3 separate regions of the Homo sapiens genome follow, and all the other regions are linked to region 1. Evidence: fine-mapped QTL for protein levels in blood plasma. A gene starts in region 1. Each other region holds a variant in brackets. All regions are shown on one strand. Distances are from middle to middle.

The links. PIP is the posterior inclusion probability: the model's chance that the variant is causal. The UK Biobank Pharma Proteomics Project read protein levels with antibody pairs (Olink). The fine-mapping took linkage between variants from a reference panel, not from the people measured, so its PIPs are less certain.
Region 2: its variant is fine-mapped to the plasma level of the BCAT1 protein (UK Biobank, PIP above 0.99).
Region 3: its variant is fine-mapped to the plasma level of the BCAT1 protein (UK Biobank, PIP above 0.99). The variant lies in the coding sequence of BCAT1. If it changes the protein, the assay may bind it differently, which can mimic a change of level.

The regions. Positions count from the first base shown.
Region 1 is chr12:24,947,502-24,958,099 of GRCh38, forward strand. It overlaps BCAT1 (branched chain amino acid transaminase 1), which reads right to left and starts at 1,600. Exons shown (of 11, transcript NM_005504.7): 1 at 1,426-1,600. The coding sequence starts at 1,431. BCAT1-DT (BCAT1 divergent transcript) reads left to right here and starts at 1,662. Exons shown (of 3, transcript NR_199054.1): 1 at 1,662-1,829. RefSeq lists enhancers at 1,494-1,843, 1,964-2,053, 4,334-4,403, 4,784-4,853, 7,954-8,193.
Region 2 is chr12:24,809,921-24,820,761 of GRCh38, forward strand. It overlaps BCAT1 (branched chain amino acid transaminase 1), which reads right to left. Exons shown (of 11, transcript NM_005504.7): 11 at 104-8,129. The coding sequence ends at 8,088. It overlaps BCAT1-AS1 (BCAT1 antisense RNA 1), which reads left to right and starts at 9,938. Exons shown (of 4, transcript XR_007063245.1): 1 at 9,938-10,027. The variant C/A (reference allele first, on the strand shown) is at 4,586.
Region 3 is chr12:24,826,495-24,837,335 of GRCh38, forward strand. BCAT1 (branched chain amino acid transaminase 1) reads right to left here. Exons shown (of 11, transcript NM_005504.7): 8 at 10,017-10,102; 9 at 6,229-6,369; 10 at 3,329-3,403. It overlaps BCAT1-AS1 (BCAT1 antisense RNA 1), which reads left to right. Exons shown (of 4, transcript XR_007063245.1): 3 at 4,207-4,295; 4 at 9,983-10,061. Among named protein-coding and RNA genes, the nearest start is that of BCAT1-AS1, 12 kb to the left of the region's middle. The variant C/T (reference allele first, on the strand shown) is at 6,312.

The sequences.
Region 1 (10,598 bases):
AGTGGAAAGATGTTTGAAATATTGTGATAAAACTAACTTAATGGAACCTTCCATACTTCTTCGATCATACCTAGAATACAATCATTTCTTTCTTAATCTTAGGAAATATCAGGAAACAGAAAAGAGACTACTTGTAGATATCTTACCTAGTTCCCCATGTTATAAAAGTATCTTGTGGAAGGGACAGGGGTTTTTGGACCTACAAAAACGCGTAATTAACCACAACTGCACATGGACAGGAAAAAGCTGGAAAAGCAAGACTGTTCATTCTTAGTTTTCTCCTTTTACTTACTAAAGCTATAATCAACTAAAGTGTGTTTTTCATCTGAAATGAAACAAGCATGAGGAAGCCAGAAATAGAACCTCTAACTATAGAAGAAAAGTTGTGTGATCTCTGTTGAATACAAAAACGCATAGTTTCCACTCGGTTACTGTTTAATTGTAGTGAAAGTTTTTGTTTGGCAACAAAGGCGCTATTTACATATTATTTCTTCTAAGTGAAACTATGGTCTGGGATGGGTTGTAGATAAGAGCAGTTGAGAACCACGCTTCATCTCCCTCCTTAGAAACTCTGAAACGAGGCTTTATTCCTACCAGAAGTTCAGATTGCATTATGGTCATCTCAATTCCAAAATGTTAGATGGCAAGAATATCTGCCCATCCTTCACTTTCCTTGGAAAAAGTTGCTCTTCGGGTTTTATATGCGATTGCAGTTTTCCAGTGTGTGAAACTAGGAAAACAAAACACTCAACGGTGTACATCCCTACACCTAAATAGTCAGAAATAATAGGCAGCTAGGCTAATTATCCTTGATTAGCAAGATCAGAGCCATTAGGGTGCTCACTGGTTTAACAAATGAATGCCCTTAGGCGTCTATCATTTGTAACTCCTAGAAGCTTTAATTTCCACAAGAAACAAAATAAGAGGGGCCTTCTGCTTTTAACAGTGAAAAGATCGTTCTCCCTCCCCTCTCCACCCGGGTCAACTCTTCCAGCCGCTCCCTCCTGCATCACGAACACACGCTGCAGGAAAGCGCATTTACAGCCCGGGACATCCCCAGACCTCCTCTCCAAAATTCCCCACCTCCTGTGCATAGGAGAAACTGAGAGAAGCCCTCACTTCCTTTCCAAACTTCACAAGCAGGGGAGGGAGCTGTAGCAGACTTTCACCTCCGTTCCCAAAAGCGAATGTGAAAAAGTCCGAGAAGGCACGTCCTGCGAGTGGAGGTTAAACCGAAATCTGAACAGAATGCACGGTCCCCGCAAACTACGATTGATAAAGAAGATACTGAGACGTTTGCGGGGGATATAAGCCATGGTTGTCTCGCCTTCCTCCCCTCCCTGCCAACTATGTTTCTTGGAGAAATCGCCGGTTCGATTCACGCACACATTTTTGTAAAACACGGACAAAACCATAAGTAGTTACCTTCATTGTTCCGTCGGCCACGAGGGAAGCTCGAGCTGAGCGGAGGGCAGATCCCAAGGGTCGTAGCCCCTGGCCGTGTGGACCGGGTCTGCGGCTGCAGAGCGCGGTCCCGGCTGCAGCAAGACCTGGGGCAGTGCCCGAGGCGGCGGCGAGTACACGTGGCGGGCTGGATTGCAGACCGGCCCTCTCGCGGCGGAGACTCGCGACCTAGCGGATTGCATCAGCAGGAAGACACTAAGGCTGCTCCCCCAGGCCGCCCCCAGATGGTGGAGTCTCTCCCAGCCCGAAGATTCGGAGCCAGCGCCCAGACCCGAGCCTCACTCACTGCTCACTCCCGGGGTGCAGGGCAGAGGTGCCAGTGTTGCAAGCAAATGACACGGTTACCCCCGAATCAGCCACTGTGGGTGCGTATCCGAGTGTGGGGATGCCCGTGTAACATTTATATGGAGACGTCAAGGAGGAGGAAATAAACAGATCAGAGGTCAAATGTGATTGCCATTCCGTCATCACTGGCTCCTGCCCACCTCCCTACTGTCCCCAAAGTAACTTTGCTGCATGCTGAGAGGACCACGGCACAATCCTGCCCAAAAGTATACATGTATCCCCCGCGGCTACTTTAAATGTACTTTTGCAGTAGTCAAGAACATGTGCCTGGTTTGCCGATCTCTTTCCCAGAGTTCCTTAGTCACCCTCAAATATAACCATTTTTGCCAATTTATTATGTACATGGGGGAAAATTTTTAATCCTTTAATTTGAGCATATAAAATTCTTTATAATGTGAAATTGCCCAGTAGCCTAGTTGGTCCCCTGTAAGTTCCCTCCCCACATCTATACAAAGCTCCAGGATTGCTACTTTTCCATGTCCAGCGCCTAGGTCAGCCTCCATGACTGCTTAAGTGTGCTGCTGGTTGACCTCCGCTGCCTCTCTGTCAAGCTGGCAAACTCCTATTTTTGTAAATTTCAACCCAAGTCTTTGCTGTGGAAGTTGCTTCCAATGCCCTCAAACAGAACTGGGCCCTTGGTCTATGTGCTGCACTTTGTCCACATCCTTTCTCAAAATCAATTATTTTATTTTATCATTTTTTAATGGAGATGGGGTCTCACTAAATTGGCCAAGCTGGTCTTGAACTCCTGGCCTCAGCAATCCCCTCGCCTCCGCCTCCCAAATTGCTGGGATTACAGATGTGAGACTGTGCCCAGCTTCTTAATTTTACTTTAATTATTTGTTTGCACAGTTGTCACTTCAGTGGATTATGAGATTCGTAAGGGCAGATCCTTTGTCATATTTATCTCCCATACCAAGTGGCCTGCCGTGGAAGAGAGGGAGTGTTGAAAACAAATGTGTCAGTGCTTAATGACTGTTGGTCAGGTGAATGAATGGTTAAATTATGTGTTCAATAAATGTACTGAGTGATTTCTACATGCTAGGCTGGTATATAACAGTGGTTTGTAATCTGAAATGTCTCAAAATGGAGCCATTTATGACAAGGGTTTCAGCCTCCAGTGAAATTGCTGACCCCTCAAATTGATAAGCATATGTATGGTGGACTGAGGTGATAAGATAACACCTGCTGTGGCCTGGCACCATTGGCAAGAGAGTAAAGAGAGAGGCAGCTGAGATAATGGCTATGGGCACTTGCGGATGCTGTGAAAACCAAAAAGTAATGAAAACCTGAAAGTAACTGACCACAGCCAAAATGCTTGCAGAAGTTCTGCCCTGAGAAATCTGTATCTGTAAGCATTTAATCAGCCATTGAGTCCTTGTGAAACCTCCTGGCCCCCGTCAGTGAAAGCACAGCTAGATAGATTTGAACCTGACACTGACATGAGACAGGCAATGTGCAAAATGCTAGGGACTGAGTGGGAAACAACAAAAATGTTCTTACCCTCATTAAGCTCATATACTAGTGTGAGAAACAGAAAGTAAGCTTTAAATCAGGTAGCAAAATGTTTATCAACTGAGGAATGGCTAAATAAAACATGGTATCATCCATACAATGGAATATTATTATATTCTGCAATAAAAAGAAATGAAGTACTGATTACATGCAGTCACATGGATGAACCTTGAAAACTATGCAAAGTGAAAGAAGCGTCTCACAAATGACTACATATTATATGATTCCACTTATCTGAAATGTGCAGAACAGGAAAATCCATAGAGACAGAAAACACATAGTTGTTTTCAATCTGGGGACAGGGTGGAATGCAGAGTGAATGTTCATGGGCGTTGGATTTCTTTTTGAATTGATTAAAATGTTCTCAAATTAGATTGTGGTAATGGTTACACAACCCTGTGAACACACTAAAAACCACTGAATTATACCCTTTAAATAGGTGAATTGTATGTTATGTGAATTATATCTCAATAAAGATGTTACTCTATGGCCCGGCATGGTGGCTCACACCTGTAATCTCAGCACTTTGGGAGGCTGAGGCAGACAGATCACTTGAGGTCGGGAGTTCGAGACCAGCCTGGCCAACATGGTGAAACCCCGTCTCTACTAAAAATTAGCCGGGCGTGGTTGCGGGGTGCCTGTAATCCCAGCTACTCACAAGGCTGAGTCACAAGAATCGCTTGAACCTGGGAGGCAGAGAGGTTGCTGTGAGCCAAGATCATGCCACTGCATTCCAGCCTGGGCAATAGAGCAAGACTCAGTCTCAAAAAAAAAAAAAAAAAAAAAAAAACAGGTACCATGTGGTAAATTTTATGAGAAAGAGTAATAAGGGGATAGAGAGTGATGGGGTCATAGATATAAATGCATTAATAAGTTCTAGAGCAAGCCTGGCAATTACTCCTAGATCCAACGACCGCCCCTCGCCCCCCTCTCCCTCAATGCAGGATTTTTCTCAGTCCCTTTGCCAGTCAAGGACCTCTAGCCGGCAATGCCGGAGGCCTAGCTCGGGGCATACTACCTGCTGCAGGAGGCACCCCACGCAATTTGCCCGCCTGAGACAAGTTTGCCTTGCACATTGGTTCCTGAGTTCTTGCCCCATGCCCAAGAAAAATGAAGATGTGCTGACAATTGAAGAGTGAGCAAGGCGGGGAGTTTTACTGAGGGATGAAACAGCTTTCAGCAGAGAGGGAAGCGGGGGTGGTCCCCCTACCCGAAGGCAGGAAAGTCTCCTCCATGAGGCTGAGTCCTGGGGCTTTTTATCGGCTCAGAATAGGGGAGGGGCAGGCAAACAGGAACAGAAATTCTCACTCTGCGTCATGGATTTCATCCAGGACCAGCAGTCTGGTCTTTCAGCCTTCAGGCTGTTTTTGGCTTGAAGGTACAGTTTCACCTCCAACCCTGTTGCTGTTACCCCTACTTAAGGATTCTTTTGATGTTAGCAACAAAGGAAGAGAGAAGGTAGTATATATTTAAAAAAAAAAAAAAAAAAAGAGCTTGAAGGGAAGTGAGAAAGTTAGGGAATTAACATCCACAGAAGAATATGAGGGCCGGGCGTTCACGCCTATAATCCCAGCACTTTGGGACGTCAAAGCAGGAGTTCAAGACCAGCCTGGGCAACATAGCAAAAGCCAGTCTTTACAAAAAATGCAAAAATTAGCTGTTTGTGGTGGTATGTGCCTGCAGTCTAAGCTACTCCCAAGGCTGAGGTGGAAGGATCACTGGAGCCCAGGAGATCCAGGCTGCAGTGAGCTGTGATCACTTCATACTTCACTGCACTCCAGCCTGGGTGACAGAGTGAGACATCATCTCCAAAAAAAAAAAAAAAAAAAGAAAAAAAAAGAATATAAGAACAATCTAGCTATGTCTCTCCTCCCATTTCCCTTTAGTGTTGATAGAAGGGCCCCACAGTTCTCCCTCATTGTCAACTGTAAACTCCCAAAGCTTCTCTCCCAGACAACACACATGCTTTTCCCAAATGATGAGGCTCATGATCAACGAAGGTTGTTACTCTGACAGTGGCACTGTACTTCAAACAAGTCACAGTAAAAGATATTTAAGGAAAACTGGATCCAAACTGGATATATACCATATACCCATCTATGGGCAGTGTCTTTTACTGAAGAAGAGACAGCATTTCTAAGATTTCTAATAGACACTAATTTTGAGGTTGACTCCAGAGCGCCAGACAGTCCAGCTTCATTTTGTCCTCACTGTTATTAACAAAGGCTTTTATTGCCATCATTATGAAAAATATGTGCCAACTACCTGCAGAATGTCTTCCCTGTATCTTACTAAATTTTCTCTAGGAAAGCAGAAACTCACAAATATTCTCTGCCTTGAGTTATTAACAGTTCCTGGAATTTGAATAGGAGAGTTTACATAAGGCAATGATACTCTGTCTTAAAAGAGGAAAATCTACTCTAAAATTCTACTCTACACACTCAGAAAACAATGTCATTCTCTTTCTCTATTTCTCATAGTAAAAAATACTTCAAAATTGTACTGTTTTTATATTTCCTATAATACTTGCATTCATTGCCCATTACATACATGTGCACACACACATGCATACACACACAGACACACACCAAGTTCAATACTCGAAAATCATTTATACTGTACTTTTTGGGAAATTTCCCATGACAATTTTGACTCACTGGATTTATTTTTATCCTTGTTGTACACACTCTAGTACCTAATCCCCATGTAAAATTAGATTTACTGGGTTGGGCGCGGTGGCTTATGCCTGTAATCCCAGCACTTTGGGAGGCCGAGGTGGGCGGATCACGAGGTCAGGAGATCGAGACCATCCTGGCTAACACGGTGAAACCCAGTCTGTACTAAAAATACAAAAAATTAGCCAGGCTTGGTGGCAGGCACCTGTAGTCCCAGCTACCGGGAGGCTGAGGCAGGAGAATGGCTTGAACCCGGGAGGTGGAGCTTGCAGTGAGCCGAGATCGCACCACTGCACTCCAGCCTGGGCGACAGAGCAAGACTCCATCTCAAAAAAATAAAAATAAAAATAAATTAATTCCTATCTATTTTGAAAGGATATTGTAAAGTCTTCTTTCTGCTAGTTCTCTAGAACCTCTCAGGGTACTTTCCACCCTGACGCACAAAGCTATCCTCCTTCTCCTTGAAACTCCTCCCTTCCACGATAGGATTCTGAATCTCCTCCAGCCTCTCTGGCAGGTCCTTACACCTTATTTATGATCACCTCATGCCCTCTAAATATAGGCAAGGTGTTCATCCCACCTGTATCTGATCTTGAATCTCCTCTTTATACTCTGTCCTCTAGTGTCTCTACTATGACCTGTAGTCTGATAACTTTTAAAACTATACTAGATCTCTGGTTCATCTCTATTCTAACAAGCCCAATTAATCCAAATCCAAGCACATAATCTTCCCTTTTTAACCTGCTTCCCTCTCTCTGCTGATGTCATTAATGTGCTTCCAATTATCCAGCCTCCAAACTTTCATATAGCTCCTATCTTTATAGATAGTACTTAAAGCAAGAGAGAAAGATATGAGCCTCCCCCATCCCGTAATCACTAAGCCGTCCCAATTGTATCTCCACAAAATCTCTTAGTCATCCCCCTCAGTTCCCACTCTCACTGCCCTAGTTTGGTCATTCATTGTACTTTCCCTCTGGATTACTGTTATCCCTGCCTTTAATCTCTCCCTGCCCCAATCCACCCAACACACAGATGGCTAGTAATCTCCCTAGTCCTCCGTTCTGATTAGATTTTTTTCTCCTGTTCAAAATCATGCAACTTGCACTCAGATGCTCTGGTGAGAGCCTGACATGAGTACATGTTGTGTGCCTAAGCACACCTGAAATCTTCCATCATTGTTTCTGCACAAATGCTCCTTGGAATTTCTTTTCCTCCGACTTTGCTTGGCTAAATGATATCCAGTCTTGGAGATCCGTTTTAATTACTATTGCCCCATTTGCAGCCTTTCCTGAAGCACTCCTTGTTATAAACCAGTGATTCCCAATTAGGAGTGATTTTGTCCCCCTGGGGAGATTTGGCAATGTCTGAAGACATTTTTATTATAATACCTAGGGAAGTGGGGGAGATTTGCTACTGGCGCCTAATGGGTAGAGGCCAGGGATGCTGCCAGGCATCCTACAATGCACAGGACGAGCTCCCACAATAAAGAGTTATCTGAGCCAGGCGTGGTGGCTCACACCTGTAATTCCAACATTTTGGGAGGCCGAGGCGGGAGGATCACCTGAGGTCAGGAGTTCGAGACGAGCCTGACCAACATGGTGAAACCCCGTCCCTACTAAAAATACAAAAATTAGCTGGGCGTGGTGGCAGGCATCTGTAATCCCACCTACTTGGGAGGCTGAGGCAGAAGAATTGCTTGAACCCAGGAGGTGGAGGTTGCAGTGAGCCAAGATCATGCCCTTGCACTCCAGCCTGGGTGACAGAATGAGACTCTGTGTCGAAAAAAAAAAAAAAGTTATCTGGTCCTAAATGTCAATAGTGCCAAAGTTGAGAAACCCTGCTTACAGACCCACACCAACTTTTGTACTTGATATGGTTTGGCTGCATCCCTACCCAAATCTCATCTTGAGTTGTAGCTCCCATAATTGCCACATGTTGTGGGAGAAACCCAGTGGGAGATAATTGAATCATGGGGGTGGTTTCCCCCATACTGTTCTTGTGGCAGTGAGTAAGTCTCATGAGATCTGATGGTTTTATAAGGAAAAATCCCCTTCGCTTGGTTCTCACTCTCTCTTTGCCTGCTGCCATCCATGTTAAGATATGACTTGCTCCTCGTCTTCCGCCATTATTGTGAGGCCTCCCCAGCCATGTGAAACTGTGAGTCCATTAAATCTCATTCTTTTATAAAATTACCCAGTCTTGGGCATGTCTTTCTTAGCAGCATGAGAACAGACTAATACAATACTGTTTCTATAATTACTGGTGTATAAGTCTTAGCTACTCTTCTCTTGGATAAATTCTGTGAAAACACAGAACCATTTTCTTTGTAATGACCATGGTGTTAGCCTACTAACTACCTCTCAAGAGTCTGCCTTCTCAATCCTTCACAATCTCTTTTACCTCTTAACATCTCTTCAAATAGTGTTCTCCCTTAGGGTTTCATCCCATGTCCTTAATTTTTTTTCTTTTTTTTTTTGAGGCGTAGTCTCGCTCTTGTCCCCCAGGCTGGAGTGCGACGGCGCGATCTCCGCTCACTGCAAACTCCGCCTCCCAGTTTCAAGCCATTCTCCTGCCTCGCCACGCCCCGCCCCCTCCGCCCCCGCCCCGGGGAGCTGGGATTACAGGCGCCTGCCACCACGCCCAGCTAATTTTGTATTTTTAGTAGAGATGGGGTTTCACCATGTTGGCCAGACTAGTCTCGACTTCCTGACCTCAGGTGATCCACCCACGTCAGCCTCCCAAAGTGCTGGGATTACAGGCATGAGCCACCGCGCCCGGCTATTTTTTTTTTCTAATTCATTTTAAATCCTCTCCATAAGGAAATCCATCTACTCCTTGGCTAATACTCTTACTTATCTAGCAACGGGCCATTTTTTACCCAGGCGTGGTGGCTCACACCTATAATCCCAGCACTTTGTGGGGCCAAAGCAGGTGGATGGCTTGAGCCCAGGAGTTTGAGACCAGCCTGGCCAACATGGCGAAACCCCATCTCTACAAAAAATACAAAAATTAGCCAGGCGTGGTGATGCATGCCTGTAGTCCTAGCTATTCGGGGGACTGAAGTGTGAGAAGCACTTGAGCCTGGGAGGTTGAGTGAGACGTGATTGTACCACTGCACTCCAGCCCAGGAGACACAGAGAGACCCTGTCTCAAACAATAAAAATGAAAATAACAAAAATCCATTGTTCTTCTTTTTTCTTCTAATAGAGCCCTGGTTCTTTTTTCTATGGTGAGGATACAGAATATGCCTAGTCCTGGGGGATTAATAGTTAATCTAAGGCAGTGATGACAATCTCATTGTACTTTGCAATATATTTACTTTCCCATACTCTCTTGAGCTAGAGAAGATCAAATAATCAAGTTCGGATCAATGAGACTTAAGAGAAAGTCACCCGAGGAGCTTTTAAGGATTTCCCTTTTGATTAGGAAAACATAAATCAGGCAAGGAGAGCTTACTGGTGCCTCCTTCTTTTCCTTCTTCCTTTCCTCCCCCTACTCCCTCTTCTCCACCTCCACTTCCTCCTCCCTCTCTTTTTCTGCTTTCTGCCTTCTTCTTAATTTTATTTTAGTAAGTATGCTTAACAGCTCTATCCTCTTAACAGATGTTTTTTTTTCTTTTGAGACAGAGTTTTGCTCTTTTTGCCCAGGCTGCAATGGCGTGATCTTGGCTCACCGCAACCTCCGCCTCCCGGATTCAAGCGATTCTCCTGCCTCAGCCTCCCAAGTAGCTGGAATTACAGGCATGCGCCACCATCCCCAGCTAATTTTGTATTTTTTAGTAGAGACAGGGTTTCTCCATGTTGGCCAGGCTGGTCTTGAACTCCCAACCTCAGGTGATCCACCAGCCTCAGCTTCCCAAAGTGCTGGGATTACTGGGATTACAGGCGTGAGCCACCGCGCCCGAGGTTTTTGTTTTGTTTTGTTTTGTTTTTTCTTTAGACAAGGTCTTGCTCTGTCACCCAGGGTGGAGTGCAGTGTCGTGGCATGGCTCACTGCAGCCTTGAACTCCTGGGATCAAGTGATCCTTCAGCCCCAGCTTCCCAAGTAGCTAGGACTAAAGGCGTGCACCCCCACACTCAGCTAACTTTTGTATTTTTTGTGGAGACAGGGTCTTACTTTGTTGCCCAGGCTTGTCTTGAACTCCTGGGCTAAAGTGACCCTCCCACCTCAGGCTCGCTAAATGCTGGGATTATAGGTGTGAACCACCGTGCCTGGCCCCTCTTAACAGATTTTTAAGTGCACAATTCAGTACTGTTATTTATACGTACAATGTTATACAGCAGATCTCTAGAACTTACTCATCTTGCATAATAGAAATTTTATATCTGTTGCCATTGATTAGCAACATTTTCCCCTTCCCCCAGCCCTGGCAATCACAATTCTATTCTTTGTTTCTCACCCCATTCTCTTCTTGTTTTAAATGTTGTATACAGATAAATGTTTCAGAATGCTGCCACCAACCATCCTGCAACCATGAGTGGCAAGCCCAAGACCAAAAACCAAATATTGAGGATGGCAAAGAAAAAAGAAAGAGACTGGACTGTTGGGGACATCACTGAGCCACTTTGCCAAACCTGGAGTTGCCTACCTTCAAAAGTT
Region 2 (10,841 bases), 140 kb before region 1:
ATGTAACTATCTTTAAAACAAATGCAGCTTGATCCCTTTTTAATGTAATCAGTTCAGCTTCAAAAACTGGTATATTGCATTTGGGATACAAACAGTCAACATGAATCTTCCAACTCAATTTATTTGTTTCAGCTCACGAACTTTTCAGAATCCCTAGTGGCTTAGTGACAAAGACCTTTGGAGAGAATGATCATGGGTTTTGATCAACACTGTCGCGATTGCATACAGACATAGCTAGAGAACAAGCCCAGTGATTATTCTACAGACCATAGGAAGCATCTACACCTCAGCTGTCGGCCGTTTGGTTACAGAAATGCGATCCTGCAAGTTGTCACCACTATACATAAAGTCAGGCTATGATAGCATATTTCACTTAAAAATAAATTATCACAATATAAGGCACATATGTATATGGAATCAGATTCATGATTTGAAAAATATGCTTAAATCACACTGAATCAGCTTAGCAGAAAAATAATTATAAAATTTGAAATATCCCCTTTTCTTTTTGTTTTGTACTAAATCAATGTAGAAAACACACTTTCTACCCTGAAGGAAACTGCTGTCTTATCTGATAAATTATATAAGCTCCAGTAAATGTATGTCATCACCCTCAGGAATGACAGGTCTCTCTTTCTCACGCTTGTGGGAATTGAGCGTTGACACTGTAAGAACACTTGACTAATAACCTTTGCCTAGACCTTCCAAACTCTGCGCGTAACTTCTTGAGAGATCTGAATAAAGGCCAATATTTTCACAGGTTGACAGGGTCTGGAGAAGTGGGTCACCGAGCACTCTGACATTTTTAAGTTCAGTTTACAGTAACTCTTTGCAAAACTTCAGGTTTTGCTGTACTTCAAATCATTTGGGCAAATTATAAGAAAATGAATACAAAATGTGTGACCCTTGGGTAATTCTGCACTTGGCTTTGTTCTCCCTTGGTGCTTTTGAGGACAATTTCTGCAAGGCCTGGTTTGGCTAAAAGGGACACTTCATTGAAGATCTCTAGGCCTTTTACTTTTTAAAGTGTCTTTTATTCTAAAGCTAGTTAACCACATATAGAAGTATGGTGTTTATCAGTGATGTAGATCCATTATGACAATGAATGGGAAGAGGTAATCTACTCCCCCCATTCTGTGCAAATCTCAAACGACAAAGCTAAGTTTTACTACAGATAAATCCATAACCAGGGGAAGGAAGAATTTTTAAATGCCCATTTTTTTCTTGTCCAAATGTTTGAAAAAGAAACATATTGAATCTCTATCCAGTGGTGTGGTTTCTGGTCTTTCTGGTGTGCTCAATTCTCTCTGTGTCATTTTGGTGTAAAAATACTATCCTACATTTACTTCCCTTGACCAGAAACCTTGAGACATCATAAAAATGTTAATTTAGCATTATTACTTCATGCATTCAACAATGCTGATTTCATGAAACCACACAAACAGGATTCTTTTGTTTTATTGATAACAGAAACTGTGCATAATTACAGATTTGATGAGGAATCTGCAAATAATAAAGAATGTGTCTATTGCCAGCAAAATACAATTATTCCATGCCCTCTCAACATACAAATATAGAGTTCTTCACACCAGATGGCTCTGGTGTAACAAAGCCATTTTAGATGTTTAATTGTGCTTCTACAAAACCTTCAGAGCATGAGGTAGTTTCCTTTACCTACGATATTTTCCACATTTCCATTATTACACTTTTAGTGAGCTAAAATCCTTTTAACATAGCCTGCGGATGATCTTTCACAAAAGCCAAGCCTCATTTACAAAGGGTTTATTTCTTTCTACTCAATTTTTCTTAAAAAGAATTTCAAGAATCACTACACAGCTAAGATATCTGAGACTTGCAATGGCTGGAGTCTATCAGTACAATAGTAATTGCAATCAGATTCAGATACAAGAGAACAGGTTCTAACAATTTCATAATTAAGTTGATATTCTGTTTCTATCTATAAGCTCACATTTAAAAACTACTTCCTCGAACTACTTATTTTTCCTCAGCCACAAGTAAGCGCAAATCCTTAAAAACAGTGGGTTGAGCCCCAGCTCCATGTATTAGGTAGCTAGGTATATTGTGGGATTATTCCTTGTTAAGTCACCCCAGGAAACATTTGCAGAATTTAGAAATGCATCCAGATTTGTGAGTTTATTTTTAAGACCTGACTAAAAATCTGCACTCTTCAAAAACTTATTGATGAAGTACAAATTGAGGCAGAAATTTACATTCCTTTCTTAACCCTGAGAATGAGTTTAATGATCATAGGAAACTAGTTTGAGGAAACTGCAATGTGTTATTGCACATTTTAGTTAAAAACTAATAGTCAACCAATTTCCAATTCAGTAAACCTTCCACCTATCAGGATAGGAGATAGTAAATAGTATCTCTAAGGGAAAAAAGTCACAATCTACTTCTTGTCTAAACTTATTATTTTATTTGGCCTCAAGAAGCTTCATGGATCTTAGAATAAAATGGTTGAAGAAATGACACAATAGATATTACTTACTATGCTATTATAAAATAAAGCCTAGTCCAAGTTGATAATAATCTAAAGTGGTTTCTATGTAACACAACCTTCAGATTATAACCTCAATAGTGTGACCTAATTCTAATATCTGATGAAGTGTTTGCTATATTTAGTCACTACCTAGTAGCATTATTTGTATTTAGCAACTACATTGAAAGCTGAAGAAGATCTCAATGCTTGACAGAATAAGGAAAAAGCTCCTTTGGATAACACAAAAATATGTTTTGTTTTTTTCCCCTCCTCTATCATTCCTTTCTTCTCTACCTCCACTTATTCTTCCTCTGATATCATCTTTCATTAAATTTTTCTCCAGAATCCAATAGTGAGCAACAGGAAACCTAGCCATTGTGATAGTGGATATGTAGAGAAAAGCCAGTGAAACTATATTTTAATTCATTCTTACACCACAGCCTACATCAATTCTTACCATCCCAACAGTAGATTACATAAACTGAACATCATGCAACTCAAGTTATACGTCTTGTTGATTGGGTCTATTGTAGAATGAAAAATACACTTTCAGACAGAATAAGATGACTTAAAACTTCAATACTTGTATCCAGCAGATTTGAAAGGGCACTTCAAATTTGTTCTTCTTTTTCTCCCCCATCACCCCCATTTCAATTTTTAAGACTGATTTCATGCCTTTATCATTTTGAAGCAAATATGTTTATATATGTCTGACCCCAGGAAATTATTTACCCACAAACACTACTATAACTACTATACTCTGTTGATATGTTTCATTATCAACCTCCCCAAATTAAACATCTGACAAGTCTTTTATATATGTATGCTGAAGAGAAAAAATAAATCACTTTCTTCCACCTTTGAATCTTTAAAAGGGGTTTGTGGTAATGATAAAAAATTTATCTCTTTCCACACATTTAAGACCTCATACTGTGCAAAATCATGGTTATATGAAAGTTATTTTCTGAATAGCTGGATCCATCACCTTCAAGCTAATACTTTAAACAGCATGGTTCATAATAGATATTTTCTAGAAAAATTCACTCTAGGATCATTTTCTTTGTTTATTTCCATCTAATCTGGCTTTGCTGAGAAAATCAGCAAGGATGCTGTAATCTGTGGTGTTAATTTATTAGGTGCACCATGATAACTCAACATTGTTTGAAAAGAATTCAGTCAACACATGTACTAGGTTGGTAGTAAATAGTAAAGAAAGAGAAGGTAATTCACACCAGATGAGGAATGGTGTGAACACTAACCTAAACACCAACCTTATTAAGTAGTTTTGCACTAGAAGAAAGGAAGGAATTAAAGAAGGATAAAGTTGCTTTAAAAATGAGATAAACTATTCATTGATTTCTTGATAAGAGATGTGTTCTGGCCTTCTTTGCTTATGATCTAACTATTCAGCTATCTAACTATGCTTTTATAGCTACAATCAGTTCAAGTAGTAGAATACAAACTCCATGAGGGTAATGTCTATATGCCATTGATTTCTTAAAACTAACTTCCTAATCTCTATTGTTGGTTATGTCAACATTTATCAAATGAACTATTAATAGAGTCTTCATCATCTTTGCCAAGTAATAGGTAATGCTCATTGAAAAGCTGGTACCCTTTGCCTCCTTTTGTGGGGAGATATCTGGAAAATAGCTGAACAAACTCTACATGTGGCGAAACAAAGTGACAGTTGTTATAAAATGTCTACTAAAATTACCTGCTAGCATTACTACGTATAACTGAAGTTTTTGCATATCCGCATAAGAAGAAATCCACATTACAAGGAAAAGTACTTTGATAATTTTAGAGTCAAGACATGAAATAAGGGATTTCTCTAACCCTTAACTCTTCTGCCGGCTTACTTGGTACCTCTGATGAATATTTATTGCTCTAAATGTTTTAGAAACTATCACTCTTTGAAAGTGAACAAACAATGTTTTCTGCTGAAAATTCATCTTTCCCAATCATAAGGGGAAACCAAATATGCAACTTGAAAAAAAAAAAGGAAACAGAATATAGTGACTGAGCACTGAGTGGGATTGAAGAAAATAAATGAGCTTATTTTGGCAGCTGCTTTCATAG[C/A]ACAATTCCCCAAAAGCAGAACTGAAACTGTAGCTTTAATAAAAAGCTCCAACAATTCTTTTGACTAAGATATACTCATTAATTGCCTCCAAGTGTTCAAGACTGCTTGGATTTGAGGCAAGCAAGACCACTTGCTTAGGTAAATTTTATGAAGCAACAAAACTAATATGGTGAAGAATTTTAACCCAAGGTGTAACTTAGGTTTCCCATGTCTTCAAGAGAGCTGACATTGCATGTTACCATCTAGCTGATGTTACGCTCTGCTTTCTTGCTACTGCCTGCCTCTGCCTCTGTTTGTTTTTTTTTTTTTTTTTTGTCTTACATTTTTTCTTACAGCAATCTTTTGAGAAAAGAATAGAGAATGTTTACCAGGTAGAAAAAACCTGATTCCTTAACAAGACTTCTCAGTCACTTGTTTCTCTTTCCCTTTCACTTTTCCTTTGTGCTTTTGAAAACAAAGGCTAAAGCAGGTGTTATAAATTTATTCATTCCTGTGCTAGAGAGCATGGAACACATCTCTGAAGTCAACTCTTCTTTTGGTGTATCACGAGTTGAATCCTTAATAAATGACTGCCACAAAGAAAATTTCTAACAGCAAATCTTTTTAGGAACTGCTCAGGTTTTGCCTTTGTCTTGACACTTCATTTTAAAATCTTGGTTTCTACTGATGTGTTTTCAAAAAAGCTGACAAGCTCGGTCTGAAATGTAGAAACTGAAAAAAGTGAAAGGAAGAGAACATGCAATATAAGTTAATCATTATCATTTTAAGTGCCACCAGTTCTGTTTATATTAATGCACTTGTGAATTGCTGAATCTCATTTGATCAACCCAATTAAACATTAAATAATTGCAGCCAATTATGCAAATATCAGCAACAATATTAATTTGTTGATCTTTTTGAGCAGATTAGCTTCACATGTTCCTAATGCTAGACCATCTTATGCCTTAAACGATCAATTAGTGTGACAATAACTAAGTCTTGAAGAATGGATAATTGCCTAGTTATAATGTGGCACTCTTGCTGTATTAATCCACTGCAATTAAACAAATAGTGCACAAGGAAAAAAGATGTGCAGATGTTCCTGTTAAATCTATTTAACAAGAAAGCGTCAAGGTCAATTTCCTGTCTTATTACTTAAATGACAATGGTGGATTGTGTTCTCCTTATCAGGAGACCTCCAGTTTTTAAACATCTATCCTTAGTTTTCACTGGGTCTGATGAAAAGGGCTTAAAAATGCTCTTGAGGTTTTATGAAAGAAATGATACAAACATAATGTTCTCTAACTTTCACAATGGACAAGTCTCGCCACAATAAATTTGGAGATGCAAAGTATAAAATGTGTTGATGGCAAATAAATAATTCTCATTTCTCATAGGAATAGAAATTTAGTTACTATGTACCACTAGACAGTTTAAATTACCTGCAACTTTTTCCTAGACTACTATATGAAGAATGAGGTCAAAGGAGTTAGCCAAGGCGAAAGCACACCCTTAGAATGTTGCTCGGGGTACACAGTGCGCAGGCGACAGTCAAGAGCACCTCAGGCCTGAAAAGAACAGCTTCTCCCAAGATTTCAGATCACCAATTAAAAGCCCCCTAAAAGATATTTTTATCATTCCTTTTCATCTTATATTTCTCAATTTTCATTTTACTATCCCTGTCTATAAAAGACCCTATGGCTAAAAGTTTTGGAAAAGAATCAAAGCCCATTTTCTATGTGTTGCTAAATGCCTCAAGGAAATTTTTCCAATGCATCAAACTTTTAGAATCCTTTTTATTTTCCTTCTCTGAAAAGAGAATAAAATATGTTCAGCAAGAAGGAAGTTATGAGGACTGAGGGAAACCAAAATACAATGTCTGAGAGTTGACCTTCCAAGGAAAAATGTTTTCTGTCAAGATTTGACTTTCCTTAGATAAACCACAAAGGATACAATTTTAACTCACAGCTCCTAAACAAGGAAAATATCACCCATAGTAGCTCTCCCTGCATCCTAACCACTTGCTCATCAAATCTCCATTCAAAGAAAAGAGCACCTGCAAAAACAGAGTATAAAAATCAGAGTATGCCTCTTTGTTTTCTACCAAAAAAAAAAAAAAAAGATTTATTTCTGCAATTAACACTTGACATAAAACATTTGTCATTTCCATTTGGTTGGTATGATATCATGACCTCTCTCTAGAGCAGTGGTCCCCAACATTTTTGGCACCAGGGACCAGTTTTGTGGAAGACAATTTTTCCACAGACTGCAGGGTGAAGGGTGGTTTCAGGATGAAACTGTTACACCTCAGGTCATCAAGCATTAGATTCTCATAAGGAGCGCATAGCCTAGATCCCTTGCATGCAGAGTTCACAATAGGATTTGTGCTCCTATGAGAATCTAATGCTGCCACTGAGCTGACAAGAGGTGGAGTTCAGGTGGTAATTCGAGTGATGGGAAGTAGCCATAAATACAGATGAAGCTCCTCAATGGCCCACCACTCACCTCTTCCTGCTGTGTGGCCCATGGCCTGGGGGTTGGGGTCCCCTGCTCTAGGGATATATCTTCAATTCCAAGATAATTCTAATACAATCAATATGAAGTGATTTCCTAAACTAACTATGCTTCAGAGTATCTCTAATGACTTAGTAGCTCATGGAAAATAAAGACAATATAAGGTAAATCTATACACTGTCAGAATCAATCACAAATTCTAATAAAGAGGTTTCATAATATAGAAACAAAGAAGGTACACTTCTATAGAAGCAAAATGTTCACTGATTCATTATAAAACCATTTACTGAGTACCTACTATATGTCAGCCATGGGGGATACAAAGATCTATAAGGCACAAGACCCTCAGTCTTGTAGTCGCCTGACAGCCAGCCAGCTACAACATAATGTGGAAAGGACAATGGTGGGAAATGCACTCAGGTCTTCCTAATGCACAGAGTATGCTCAGGCTGTGACATCAGGAAGAAAACAGATATTTACCTTAACACGGACTTGGAGGACCTTCAAAAAACAGTGATGGGAGGAAATCCAGTTTTAAAAGTCTTGATTTAAAAAAAAGAAAACACTTTCTGTGGATAAAGATAGGCTGCAGGAAATGTAACCTATGAAATTTTCTCAAATTAGCTTTCAAACACACACAAAAAATTGCATTTGTTTGAGGAGCAGAATGTAACTTATATTAAAGAATAAACTACTATTTAGTATCTGAGTGAAGTACAAAAGGAGGCACTAAAATCATTGAGGAAAATCCCATGTTATATGGCTTACATTAATGTTTTTCTAGGTAAGGTAAGGTAAGTTACTACTACCAAGTTATGAAACACCATTTGATGATTGCAATTCATTTTCTCTGGCATGAAGAAACAATCACTCTTGTAACACATTGATACTACAAACTACATTATGCACAGGTAGCCAAAGAAATCTATCACAATTCAAATGCAACAGTCTGTCCCAGTAGCATACAGTTGGTATCCTCTATTTTCCATTGTATCCTCTATTTTCCATTCAGGATAGCACAATTGTCCAGTCGCTCTCTTCTCTTCCATACTGCAACAAAAGCAAGAAAACGTGTTTCAGTACAGAAGCTAACAGGGCAGAAATAGCTTACAAACAAACTTAATACCGCCAAGGTTACACAAAAGGTTCGCTTCTGCTTTGAACAACATTTTCACATTAAACATGTTCACATTAAAAACTGGATTAGAGAGAAAGAGAGGAAAAGAGGGACACCATATAAAACATAAGATAAAAGCATACATAGGGAGTTTTTTAAAAACCAAATACCTGAAAAGAATTACAAATTTTACAATTATTGCTGAACTCAAATTCATAGCTGGTATAGGTCCTTTATCTATTTAGGTACATGCCTTTTCATTATCATTTCTCATTGAGTTAACTTGCTTAATGACTGTGACTTTTACTGTGAAAAAGTGATCCTCAAAGTGTATTCTCAGACCACTAGCATCAGCATCACCAGACAACAAGTTAAAAATGCAAATTCCCAGACCTCATCTCAGACTGAATCAGAATCTGGGGATGGGTTCCAGCAACCTGTGATTCAGCAAGCATCAAATGATTCCGACATGCACTAAAGAGTGTTTTATGCTCATAAACAAAAATATGAAGTTGACAAGTCCCATGGATTTTAACAGAGACTCTGTTCTCTAAATCAAAGTTGTTCATGCTGTGTTAGCATTTTTCTTATTTCTTCAAAAGTTATGTAACTGTATCATAGTCAGAATTTCATTCTTTGCATCAGCAAATACTTTGGTTTAAAAGCAAGCCTGAATTTTAATATTCAAAATGAAATTAAATGAAATAGAGATATTCCATACATCACAAATAGAAAGCTAGTTCTATATTCATTCATTCAATCAGTCAGTCATTCAACAAAAATGCCTGTGTTTATAATAAGTTCTCACTCTGTGAGCAATTAATGTAGGCCAATGTCATCATGCCAGGAGTTTTACAGGCTTATTACCTCATTTAATACCCACAGTAACTGTACATAGAAGGTACCATTATCAATCCATTTTATGAATGAGAAAACTGAATATTAGGGAGATTGAATAACTTGCTCAAGTTTGCAGTTAACAGATGGAAGAGCCCAGACCCTAACCAAGCTCTCTCTCACAGCAAATTCCATGTTCTTGACCACCACCAAGACTGCTCGCCATGTGTTCACCGAGCCTTGTGTATTGAGACTGACTTGGAACAGATCTTTCCAAGCCAGTGTATCAGGCCACTAAATCTGTCACTATGGGTTTGCCTAAATCACTCAGACTATGTCTATTTTCACACGAAATGGCTCTTCTAGTCCTAATTTAACTTTAGTTTAAATTAATATAAAACATCAGAATTTCTGAACTAGAAACAATGTTAATAACCATCTAAAAGGTAGGAGATGACTCAAATAAGTGGGGCTCTGGATTTTACTTCTTTACTTCAGAACAATCCTACTTTTATCCATTTTGTATATTGGGATTCCAGGAGTGATCTCTTTTGAAGAAAGTTCTGCTGCATAAAAATCAAGTGTAAGGAGCAATGAATTTTAATCCAAGCTTCTCATCTTACATATAAGGACACTAAGGCTCTAGGTCACCCTTAATTTTGACAAGCCCAGTTCTCTGCCTCTGTCTGATGTTCTTTCTCCTATATCACAATGTACATGTGCTGTGTTTGTCTTAAAGACCTCAGAGAGCAGAATCTATCCAAGTGGTAAAAATACTGGCAGCCAAGAATGGGTCTACCTACCACCTGGTAGTTTACATGCAAAGGGGAATAAAGGAAGCCAAATGACTGTAAGTTTCTTGCATAATCCACACCAGAAAGCATTGCCTACAGACTGTAACTGCCCGCTATTGACTCTGTTGCTTCATGATGAATGCTGGATGAAACATCTTCAAATTCTACCTGATTTATGTATGATGTCAACATGACTTAAGGTAAGGGCAAAATATGTGTTTTATTTTCCTTACTTGGATTCCCATTAATATATTAAACACTTTCACCATTAATAACAGTTCATTGGCATTTTAGCAGATCTACAGAACTGTGATTCATGACTACTGTCACTTCATCTTGAATTTCATCAGTTAAAGTAAATTTGCTTTCAATTAGTTGTTTTAGTTTTATAAATGATCAAAAATCAATTTTGATTACAATGACAGTCGTAGGCCACATATCACTCTGCGAACCTGCATAATATGCACTAAGCTTTACTCTTCTCATTCTGTAATTTATGCTTTTATGTAAAATCATAGCATTCTGAGAAGTGCCCAAGAAATGTGATATTACAGGTAATTCATAATGTCTAGAAGTAGGCATTTAGTAATCAGATTTTCCATTTGGCTGATGGATAATGCAATTTAATTTTTCAAGGGAAAATAATTCTAAGTAGAGATGGCAGATTTAAGCAGAAATAGAAATTATATTATTTCCTTAAGAGTAAGTAAGTATACATAGAGGGAGGGAAAAGAGAAAACATGTCTTCATGGACTAGGATGTCATTATACTCTTGTCATTATACTCTTGTCATTGTCATTACAAAACAACAGTGCAGGCTCACACCTTCAATGTTTGGTAGGGCGGCTGTAAGTCACACTTACTTAGTTTTGTTCACTGGAATCAGAGATGGTGTCAAAGCAACGTGGCAAGTCAGGTCGAGCCTGCGGGATGGTATTTTGAGCCCATGTGGAAGACTTAATGAAATGTGCAGAATTTTAATCTTTTGCAAATTCCAGCGAGAACACTAAACTA
Region 3 (10,841 bases), 120 kb before region 1:
TATGTCTGTTTTTATATCAGTACTATGCTGTTTTGGTTATTATAGTTTTATAATAAATTTTGAAGTAAGGTAGTGTGGTGATTCTAACTTTGTTCTTTTTGCTCAAGATTGCTTTGGCTATTTGGGGTCTTTTTAGCTCCATATACATTTTAGGATTGTTTTTTCTATTTCTGTGAAGAAAGTCATCAGTATTTTAATAGGGATTGCATTGAATCTGTAAATTGCTTTGTGTAGTATAGTCATTTTAACAAAATTAATTCTTCCAATCCATGAATATGGAATATCTTTCCACCTTTGTGTGTTTTCTTCAATTTTTTAAATCATAGTTTTATACTTTTCCTTGTATAGATCTCTCATGTCTTTGGTTAGATTGATTCCTAGGTATTTTATACTTTTTGTGGCTATTATAAATGGGATTGCTTTCTTGATTTCTTTTTCAGATTGTTCACTGTTAGCATATATAAATTCTACTGATTTTTATATGTTGATTTTATATCCTGCAACTTTACTGAATTCATTTATCAGTTCTACAGGTTTTTTGAGGGAGTCTTTAGGTTTTTCTAGGTGTAAGATAATGTCATCTGCTAAGAAAGCTAATTTAACTTCTTCTTTTCCAATTTGGATGCCCTTTATTTATTTTTCCTGCCTATTTGCCCTGGCCTCTAAACCTCTGTTTTGGAAAAAGGCTTTCATGTAATCTAGCCAGTTATGTATTTTTTGTTCTATTTGTGTTCTTTATTTGAGCAAAACTGTAATAATTTATTATTTTCAGATTTACTCAGGCAACCTTAAAAAAATTAAAATGCCTAAGCCATCCATGCAGAAATTTTTATTAGCTACTCTTCAAATTACTTGTAAGTGTTGCTGTGTACAAAGGTAGAAAACAACTCTGACTAAATTTTATTTCTTCCAATATTAAGATATTCCTTTACTTAGCTTACAGAAAATTCTCATAGAAAACCTTTGCTGGAGAGCAGAAGTATGGCAGCTCATTGATTAAAAAACCACAATCAAGGCCAGGGTGCGGTGGCTCATGCCTGTAATCTCAGCACTTTGGGAGGCTAAGGTGGGCAAATCACTTGAGGCTAGGAGTTTGAGACCAGCCTGGCCAACATGGCGAAACCTCGACTCTACTAAAAATACAAAAATTAGCCAGGCATGATGGTGCATGCCCATAATCCCTGCTGTGTGGGAGGCTGAGGCACAAGAATCACTTGAACCCAGGAGGCAGGGGTTGCAGTGAGCTGAGATTGCACCACTGCACCCCAGCCTGAGCAACAGAGTAAGACTCTGTCTCAAAAAAACAAACAGAAACAAAAACACACTTTCTTTCTTTTTAATACTGTAAATTTGGCAGAAAACTTGCTGAGTAAGTCTCTTTTAAAACTGCCTTTTAAACTCTCTTTTAAACTTTTATTTTTATTTTATTTCCCTTTTTTTAGAGGAAGGTTCTCACTATGTTGCCTAGGCTAGTCTTGAACACCTGGCCTCAAGCGATCCTCCTGTCTTGGCCTCCCATAGTGTTGGGATTATAGGTGTGAGCCACTGCACCCAGCCAGAAATGCCATTTTTATCACTACCCAAGGACCTCCATTGCTCTCTGGAGGCCTGTTGCATTCTCAGCCACCTTTAAGTTTCACTTAGTTTCATGACTTAATGCCATCCGACATCACTCAAATGATCAAACTTTATTTTACTTTTCAATGTAAGTCTCAGGCCCTCTTGGATATTTTTACTAATTGACAAGGATAGTAACTGGCTTCAACAAAGTCTTCTAACTTGTGAAATGCTTGCAAATTACAGGATAATCTCTTTTCTGAGTAGCCCAGTGTTATCTGGTATTTAGCATGCCTGCTTAACTGCCTGATGAGGCATTACTGTAGATTATTGCTCAGAAAAAAAATAGGCAAAACAAAGTTAGCAGTATGAAAAAATAGACGTGTATACTCTTTGATCCCAGATTTATCCTTAGGAAGTAATCGAGGATGTACTGTCCATACTAGTGAAAAAAAAATTGCCAACAACATAAATGTTCAATAATATAATTTTTTAAAAAAATTATGGTACATCAATATAATGGAATTCAATTAAACTTTATAAATGGTGTTGGAGAAAACTACTTATTGATATAAAAAAGCAAAGCATTTATTCAGTGAAAAAACATGTAACAAAATTATGTACAATATGATCCCATTTTGTTAGGAAAAAATAACTATCTAAAAGTATACTGGCTGGGCATGGTGGCTCACGGCTGTAATCCCAGCACTTTGGGAAGCCAAGGCGGGTGGATCACCTGAGGTCAAGAGTTCAAGACCAGCCTGGCCAACAGGGCAAAACCTCATCTCTACTAAAAATACAAAAATTAGCCGGGAACGGTGGCATGAGACCTGTAATCCCAGCTACTCGGGAGGCTGAGGCAGAAGAATCGCTTGAACCCAGGAGGTGGAGGTTGTAGTGAGCTGAGATCATGCCACTGTTCTCCAGCCTGGGTGACACAGCGAGACTTAGTCTCAAAAATAAATAAGTAAATAAATAAATAAATAAATAAATAAATAAATAAAGTATATAAATGCTTACAAAATATTGAAGGTTAAGACATCAAAAAATGGCAGGGCACAGTGGTTCATGCCTGTAATCCCAACAATTTAGGAGGCCAAGGCAGGTGGATTACCTTAGGTCAGGAGTTCAAGACCAGCCTGGCCAACATGGTGAAATCCCATCTCTACTAAAAACACAAAAATTAGCTGGGCATGGTGGCGCACACCTATAATCCCAGCTACTCGGGAGGCTGAGGTAGGAAAATTGCTTGAACCCGGGAGGCAGAGGTTGCAGTGAGCCAAGATCGTGCCATCGTACTCCAGCCTGGGCAACAAGAGTGAAACTCCAGCTCAAAAATAAAAAGACATAAAAAATTAACAGTGATTATATCTCAGTGTTGGAATCACATGCACTGTAATTTTCTTCCTGAAGTTGCTTCTACTTTCAAATTTTTTCTTCCTTTTTTTAACAAAAGTTATGTTATCCTTCTTAATGAGATTTTTAAATGTTACCAAAAATTACATCTATTTTTTAATGTTAAGTAATGTGGAGTCCTGAACAATATTTTCTTTCTTTTTTTAAAACATACATCTTCTTTCCCATTTCTGCTTTGCTCATGCCCACACATTGTGTTGGGAATATCTTCCTTAAATTTAACTTATTGATCTCAAATTGTATTATTTAATCCTCTTCATTGAAATATAATTTAGTTGTAAGCTCTGACAGAAATAAGGTGACATAAAAAAAAGAAAAGAAAAGGAAAGAAAAGAAAAGAAAAGAAAAGCTTTACCTGGATATCAGTTAATTTGCTCAAGATGCGGCTTGCCAGCTTAGGACCATTCTCCATAGTTGGAATGTGTATTGTCTACAAAAGAAAGGGAAATGAGATAATTTGAGGGTACTCATGTATATGGTGATAACAGATAAGACACTCAAGCAATTCTGCTATACTAAGGCAATTCCACTGAAGTTAAGGAATAGCACTAAAACCTACTGACTCTGAGTGCTAGCACCTTATGCCAAAGACTTTCATATCCAAAATTTGAATAAAAACTAGCCAATGACAGGTTATACATTGCCTACCTACCAATTAATTTTAGGGCATAACTGGTTTGTATACCAGCCTTCAGGATCATTTGAAGAACCAAGGAGGAGCTACAGTTACCTAAAATAGTGGCTAAACTTAAAGAACCCTACCTCTTCCAAGATTCTGAGAATCTGTAAGGATGAATGATTGTCTTCTACATATTAACCCTCTGGCTAATATGAGAACTCAAAGATATTTTGCCACAGTTTAATGCAAGTCATTCTGGGAGCATAAATTAAAGCAAGTCTATGACTTCATAAAAGGGGCTTCTATACCTATCTCTGGCCCAAGGTAAACTTCCAGGGGCCACTACCTCCACAATATTGGATAGCATGATTAAATGCATGGCTGAAAGAGATTTCATGCTTCTAATTTGTATCTGAGTCATGCCTACTCATGCCTTGCTGGCTTGCAGGTTTTGATAGTTTGATTTTAGGAGATAGTCTGTGCTCTCAAACACTTTTCATATTATACCCTTTAGTATAATATGATAATTATATATACTTACTTTTTGGCTGTAAATGCTTCCTAAGCCTGGATCATTAAAATTATGCTAAACTTTATAAACTTCTTATTTCTAGAAGTGAAATAATAATTCAACTTAAAAAAAATCTGGCCTAATGACAACTTCAGTGGATGGATCACATTACCTTGATGCATTCTTATCAATGTAAGTATTGACATGAAACAGAACAATTCTTCTCCCATGAAACAGTCTATCTGTTGATGCAATTATGTCAAGAGCAATCCCTTAAAAGCAAGTTCTAAAACCTCAACAAATGAAGCAGCCATTATTAAAGTCAGAGGAGTTGAGCAAAACTCCAATCAGCTGAGGGAAAATAACTCTAAAGTAAAATTTGAAAACCAGTGGAGTTTGCATTTACGGTTGACACTTGAACAACACGGGTTTGAACTACACAAGTTCACTTATACGTGGACTTTCTTCTGCCTCTGCCACTCCTAAAACAGCAAGACCAATCCCTCCTCCTCCTCCTCCTCCTCAGCCTACTCAACATGATGGACAATGAGGATGAAGACCTTTATGATGATCCACTTCCATGTAATGAATAGTAAATATATTTTCCCTTCCCCATGATTTTCGTAACTTACTTTATTGTAAGAATACATATATAACATACATAACATACAAAATATGTGCCAATCGACTGTTTTTGTTGTTGATAAGGCTTCCGGTGAACAGCAGGCTACTAGTAGTTAAGTTTTTGGGAAGTCAAAAGTTATATGTGGGCCGGGCATGGTGACTCACGCCTGTAATACCAGCACTTTGGGAGGTCAAGGCAGGTGAATCACTTGAACTCAAGAGTTTGAGACCAGCCTGTGAAACATCTTGAAACCCCGTCTCTACAAAAAATACTAAAATTAGCTGGGTGTGGTGGTGCACACCTGTGGTCCCAGCTACTTGGGAGACTGAGGTGAGAGGATCGCTTGAGCTTGGGAGGCGGAGGTTGCAGTGAGCCGAGATTGTGCCCCTGCACTCCAGTACAGGTGACAGAGAAAGACCCCGTTTAAAAAAACAAACAAACAAAAAAAGTTGTATGTGGATTTTTCAACTGCATGGGGGTTGACACCCCTAATCCCTGTGTTGTTCAAGGATCTGCTATAATATGAATAACTTAAGCCAGTTCACATTATAAGACTAATACTTACATGCCTTTAAGTTATAAAGTTAGATGCCAATGTTAATCATAAGTATTGGAGCTTTGTTATAAAGTGAAAAGCAAAACAATTTGACAAGAAAACAAAAGTATGGCACATATAAAATCAGACTAATTTACTAAGAGGAGAACATTTCTTCCAACCAAATCCTCAAATTCCTTTTGTAAGATTTTAGTAAATGCACCAGGTTTGCCAATGAATAATTCTTGTAAAGTGGTCTACTTACTATTAATGATAACAGCATTAATAGTAAAAAAAAATCAAGGGATTGACCACTCGAATGCATTTTCCATAACTATTTGCCATTCCTAATCCAGTGGTTTGGAAGTACTTTTGGTTAACCAGAAACTGAAATGTAACTACCTATAGAGCCTTCCCTAGTGAGCTGGTAGGAAGGAAGAGAGAAGAGTAGAAGACTGTCGGCATAGCTCCAATCCCGACATGTAGGTAAGACAGATCTTACACGTGTCCAAGGACAAAACTAACTTCCCACCATGTTTAAGCTTACATGAAATCACTGGAAACATAGTAGATATATGCTAATACAGTTTCATCTGGATAAACTGTCCCAGTTATTTTTTTTGTAGTGCCAAGTTAAAAAACAAAAACAACAACAAAAAAGACCTAGCATGGTGCGGTGGCGCACTCCTGTAATCCCAGCAACTCAGGAGGCTGAAGCAGAAGGATTGCGTGAGCCCAGGAGTTTGAGGCTGCAGTGAGCTATGATCACACCAGTGAATAGCCACTGCACTCCAGCCTGGGCAACACAGCGAGACTCCATCTCTTTAAAATAAAGAAAAACAACAACAACGACAAAACTTTTGCATCTTGGGTCTGGGTCCAGATACAATTTTATTCATACACTTAAATTAAATGTAATTTAATGTGATTGGAAATGATAGGAAATGAGGAAATACTTGTCGTACCTCGCCTTTGTACAGTATATCAGAAACTGGGCAAACAACACAGGCTGTACCAGAGCCAAACATCTCTCTCACTCTGTTCCCCT[C/T]CAGGGCTGTTGTCAAGTCATCCATGGTGAGGTATCTCTCTGACACCTTAAATTCACCCTGCATGGAATATAAAAAATAACAAGTATATTTTAAAGGAAAAGGCATGCAAAACAATTGCAATACTTACTGTTCTGCTTAACATTCTGATTGCACTTAGACAAGGTCACAATCATCCTTTAAGGGAAAGCTGGAAGTGGCACACCATCTTACTGGTGAACACATCGAGGTGTTAAGTAACCTACTTCAAGGTCACAGATTTATATATGAGATTATCAGAATATAAAATATAAGATTATCACCACAAGACACATGGTATACTTTAACATATGCCTTCTTTTTTGCCTTCTTATTTGTTAACTTGTATAAAGTCTCACAAAATTGATGCATCCCAAATGCTGCTTGATGCATGCTCCGTGTTAACAGTGTCTTAGGCCGGGCACGGTGGCTCATGCCTGTAATCTCTGCATTTGGGGAGGCTGAGGCAGGCAGATTACTTGAGGTCAGGAGTTTGAGACCAGCCTGGCCAACCTGGTAAAACCCTGTCTCTACTAAAAATACAAAAATTAGCCAGGCATGGTGGCGGGTGCCTGTAATCCCAGCTACTCAGGAGGCTGAGGCAGGAGAATCGCTTGAACTCAGGAGGCAGAGGTTGCAGTGAACCAAGATCACGTCACTGCAGTCCAGCCTGGGTGACGGAGTGAGACTCTGTCTCCAAAAACAAAACAAAACAAAAAAATCAGTGTCTTAAAACCTACTTTACCATAAAGGAGAACAATGTATTATATAATATTAATAATTATAGCTACCATTTATCAAGCACCCGCTATTATGCCAAGTTCTGTAATTTTAAGGGTGAGTACTATCATCCCCATTTTACAGATGAGGAAACTAAGGTTCAAGGAGGTTGAAGGGCATCTCCAGGGCCACAAAGGAAGTAAGTGACAGAAACTCAATTTGAACCCAGGTCTGATCTGATTGGCTCCAAATTTGGTACTCTTTCTACGTTTGTCTCTTTCTTTTTTTTTTTTTTTTAAGACAGGGTCTTGCCCTGTCACCCAGGCTGGAATGCAGTGGCATAATCTTGGCTCATTGCAGCCTCGACCTCCCAGGCCCAAGTGATCCTCCTGTCTCAGTCTCCTGAGCACCTGGGACTACAGGTGTATGCTGCCATGCCCAACTAGGTTTTATATTTTATATTTTATTTTGTAAAGATAGGGGTCTCCCTATGTTGCCCAGGCTGGGCTCATGTGATCCTCCCACCTCAGCCTCCCAAAGTGCCAAAGTGCTGGGATTATAGTTGTGAGCCACTGTGCACGGCTTACCTATATCTTTTATGGAATAAAGAACAGACTGAGTTCAAATATCTGAAATACTCATTATTTTTAAACGTTGAATGTATATTTGGACTTTATTTGAGAAATTGTATTGTATGTATTTTTTTTCCTAATATGACTAACAGTTGACTTTACAGTGACAATTCTCTTCCTTCTCTTTCAGTATCACATTCAGTTGATTTTCATCATGGAATTAGTGGTATAACCTCATTGACTTCTGCCAAAGTGTTTGAATATATTCTTTGCTCAAGGATAGGAAATGGGAAAAAGATCCTTTTAAGCTATGTGTTTAAACTATCTGTTTAATTCTTGTTCTTTTACCTCAGTGGTTCAAGTTCAAAGTTTGTCAACAAGTTATTTGAATAAAGGGCAATAAAAATAGAGAGGTTTAAAAAAATAAGATGAGTATTTTTTCTTAATTTATAAACCCACAAGAGATAAAAATGGAAATCAAAGCTCTTGGCAATATTCAAAATATTTGAATATTTAAAAGAAGAACTCATGCTGTAAGTAGATTTGGAAGAGCAGGAAAATATATCTGCAATAGAAATATGGCTCTTTGAAAGTTTCAATTTCTCTCAGTCTACAATTGCAATTATGTTGTTCAAAAGTAAATGAACTGCAGAAAATCAGGCAAATTAATTGAAAACAAGCTGAGTTCTGTGTCCTGAAAAAGAAAAGAAAAGAAAACTCTTTTGTAAATAAGCAGAATTGTTTTTGCTCTGCTCACCCTTACTTATCTTTGGACAATTTCCCCTATCTGGCAAATAGTGGTGACCCCCTACATGCCTCTTGGCATTTCACGTCTCATGTTTTAAAATAGCTTTTAAAATAAATTACAGCTATGAAGTCAAGAAAAAATTTCCTCCATAATAACCTATTTTTCATGCTAGCAAATCATTAGTGTGGGAAAGTATTTCCACTTGCAACTTGTCGTCGAACCTTCTGTACTTGGTTGATATTTTTCTTTAATAAAACAAAAATTACTGAGCTTCAAAAATATCTTTCCAATTGCAAACATATTTAGGACAGGGCAAGCTGTTTGAAAATTATACCAACGGTTTGTAAATGTCATGCCCAATGCGCCAGCCAGCATGTAGCAGTTGGGTCTTGTCTACTTCAGGGTTTTGTAGAATTATTTATAGCACATTTCATCTATTTTGAAAGTCTTTTCCAGAGAAACCATGCTGGTATGCTCCTAGATAACGTGTGTGTTTCTAAACATTTGTCCTATTACTACTAGTACTCTTTGACCACAGTAAGCTCAAAGCCTTTTCATGTTCTTTGGAGACCATTTTAACACCTGGGTCAAAAGTTCCATCCAAGAACCTTTACCAGACACCCAATTCATTCAATAATTTGTCTTGAATACATTACGTCATTTCCAAAACCAAACCTTTTTAAATTTTATTTTATTTATTTATTTATTTATTTATTTATTTATTTATTTATTTAATTTACTTTTAGAGACATGGTCTCACCCTGTATTCAGGCTGTAGTGCAGTGGCTTGATCATAGCTCACTGCGACCTTGACCTCCAGATCTTATGCCATCCTCCCACCTCAGCCCCTCCAAGTAGCTGGGACTACAGGCATGTACCACCATGTTCAGCTAATGTTTTTGATTTTTTTGTAGATTCGGGGTCTCACTATGTTGCCCAGGCTGGTCTCGAATTCCTGGGCTTAAGTGATCCTCCTGCCTTGGCCTCCCAAAATGCTAGAATTATAGGCATGAACCACTGCACCCGGTCCACCAAATTGTTTAATATGCTTGCCTGTGTCACACGAATTTGAAAGTCTACTGAAAACAACTTTACATTTGCTTGCATGTTCTGATTTTAAAATAGGCATGTATATGAATTTTGGAGGATGGGGGTAGGACAGAGAGAAAAAGAAGGCAGTCAAACCAATAATGTTATATTAGTAAACATTTATATGTCAGTGAAATTATTTCATTTCTACGGCAAGCATGGTTACACTGGTATAAATAAAGGAAAGGAAGAAGTATCATTGCCATTTGGAAGCAACACAGACTTGGGAAGTTAAGGAATGTCTGGATGGAAGCACATCAGGTATGAACCAGACAAAAGTTGGTGGGAGATACCTGGTAGACTGAGACTACTACTAGAATACTTCTCCACTATGACATCTTGCTAAACTGGTTTCTCTCTGCCCTTGCTATCAACAATACTTATTTTAATAGTCTTGCCAAGAAAGCCCTTCTAGAAGAATACTTTTCATTCACGTTAGAATTTAAAGATTAGATAACATTGGTTGGAACCACAGGATATTATTTCAACACTAGGCTGGGCTTATTTTGATTATTTTTTATTTCAGGCTTACAAAAGTTGTTCATATCAAAGGCACCCACCCACTGATGTGCCAGGTCCAGAATGCACCGCCTTGTCACTCCTGGAAGAATGATGCCATCTAGTGGAGGAGTTGCCAGTTCTTCTTCTGTCAATCAGAAATTGGGACATTTTCAAACTTTCACTACATTAGGCATGCCTTATTATCAATAGCCATTTTTTTAAAAAACCATCACAATTTTGCTAGCAACAAACATAAAGAAAATTTTACTGTTCTGCATGATCAAATTTCCCAAATCAGTTCACACTTCAGGTAGACCCTTATTTAAAAAAAGAAGAAAGAAGGAAGGAAGGAAAGAAGGAAGGAAGGAAAGAAGGAAGGAAGGAAGGAGAGAGAGAGAAAGAAAGGAAGGAAGGAAGGAAAGAGAAAGAGAAAGAAAGAAAGAAAGAAAAGAAAGAGAGAAAGAAAGAAAGAAAGAAAGAAAGAAAGAAAGAAAGAAAGAAAGAAAAGAGAAAGAAAGAAAGAGAGAGAGGGAGGGAGGGAGGAAGGAACGAAGGAAGGAAGAAAGAAAAAAGAAAGAAAGAAAGAAAAAAGAAAAGAAAAGAAAGAGAGAAGGAAAGAAAGAGAGAGGGAGGGAGGGAGGGAGAAAGGAAGGAAGAAAGAGAAGGAAGGGAGGAAGGGGGGAGGGAAGGAAGGAAAGTTATCTAATCATCTTCAGTTTACCCTTAACCAGTAAAATAATGAGATGGTTTTCCACCAACAAACAGTAAGAGTTATTGCATGGTCTTAAGAGGAATATTCTGAAGTGAAAATTTACCTTAGCAGATGAAAGGTGGTTACTAATTAGAATAATGTAGATAGGGTCTTACTCAGAAAAACTGGTCAT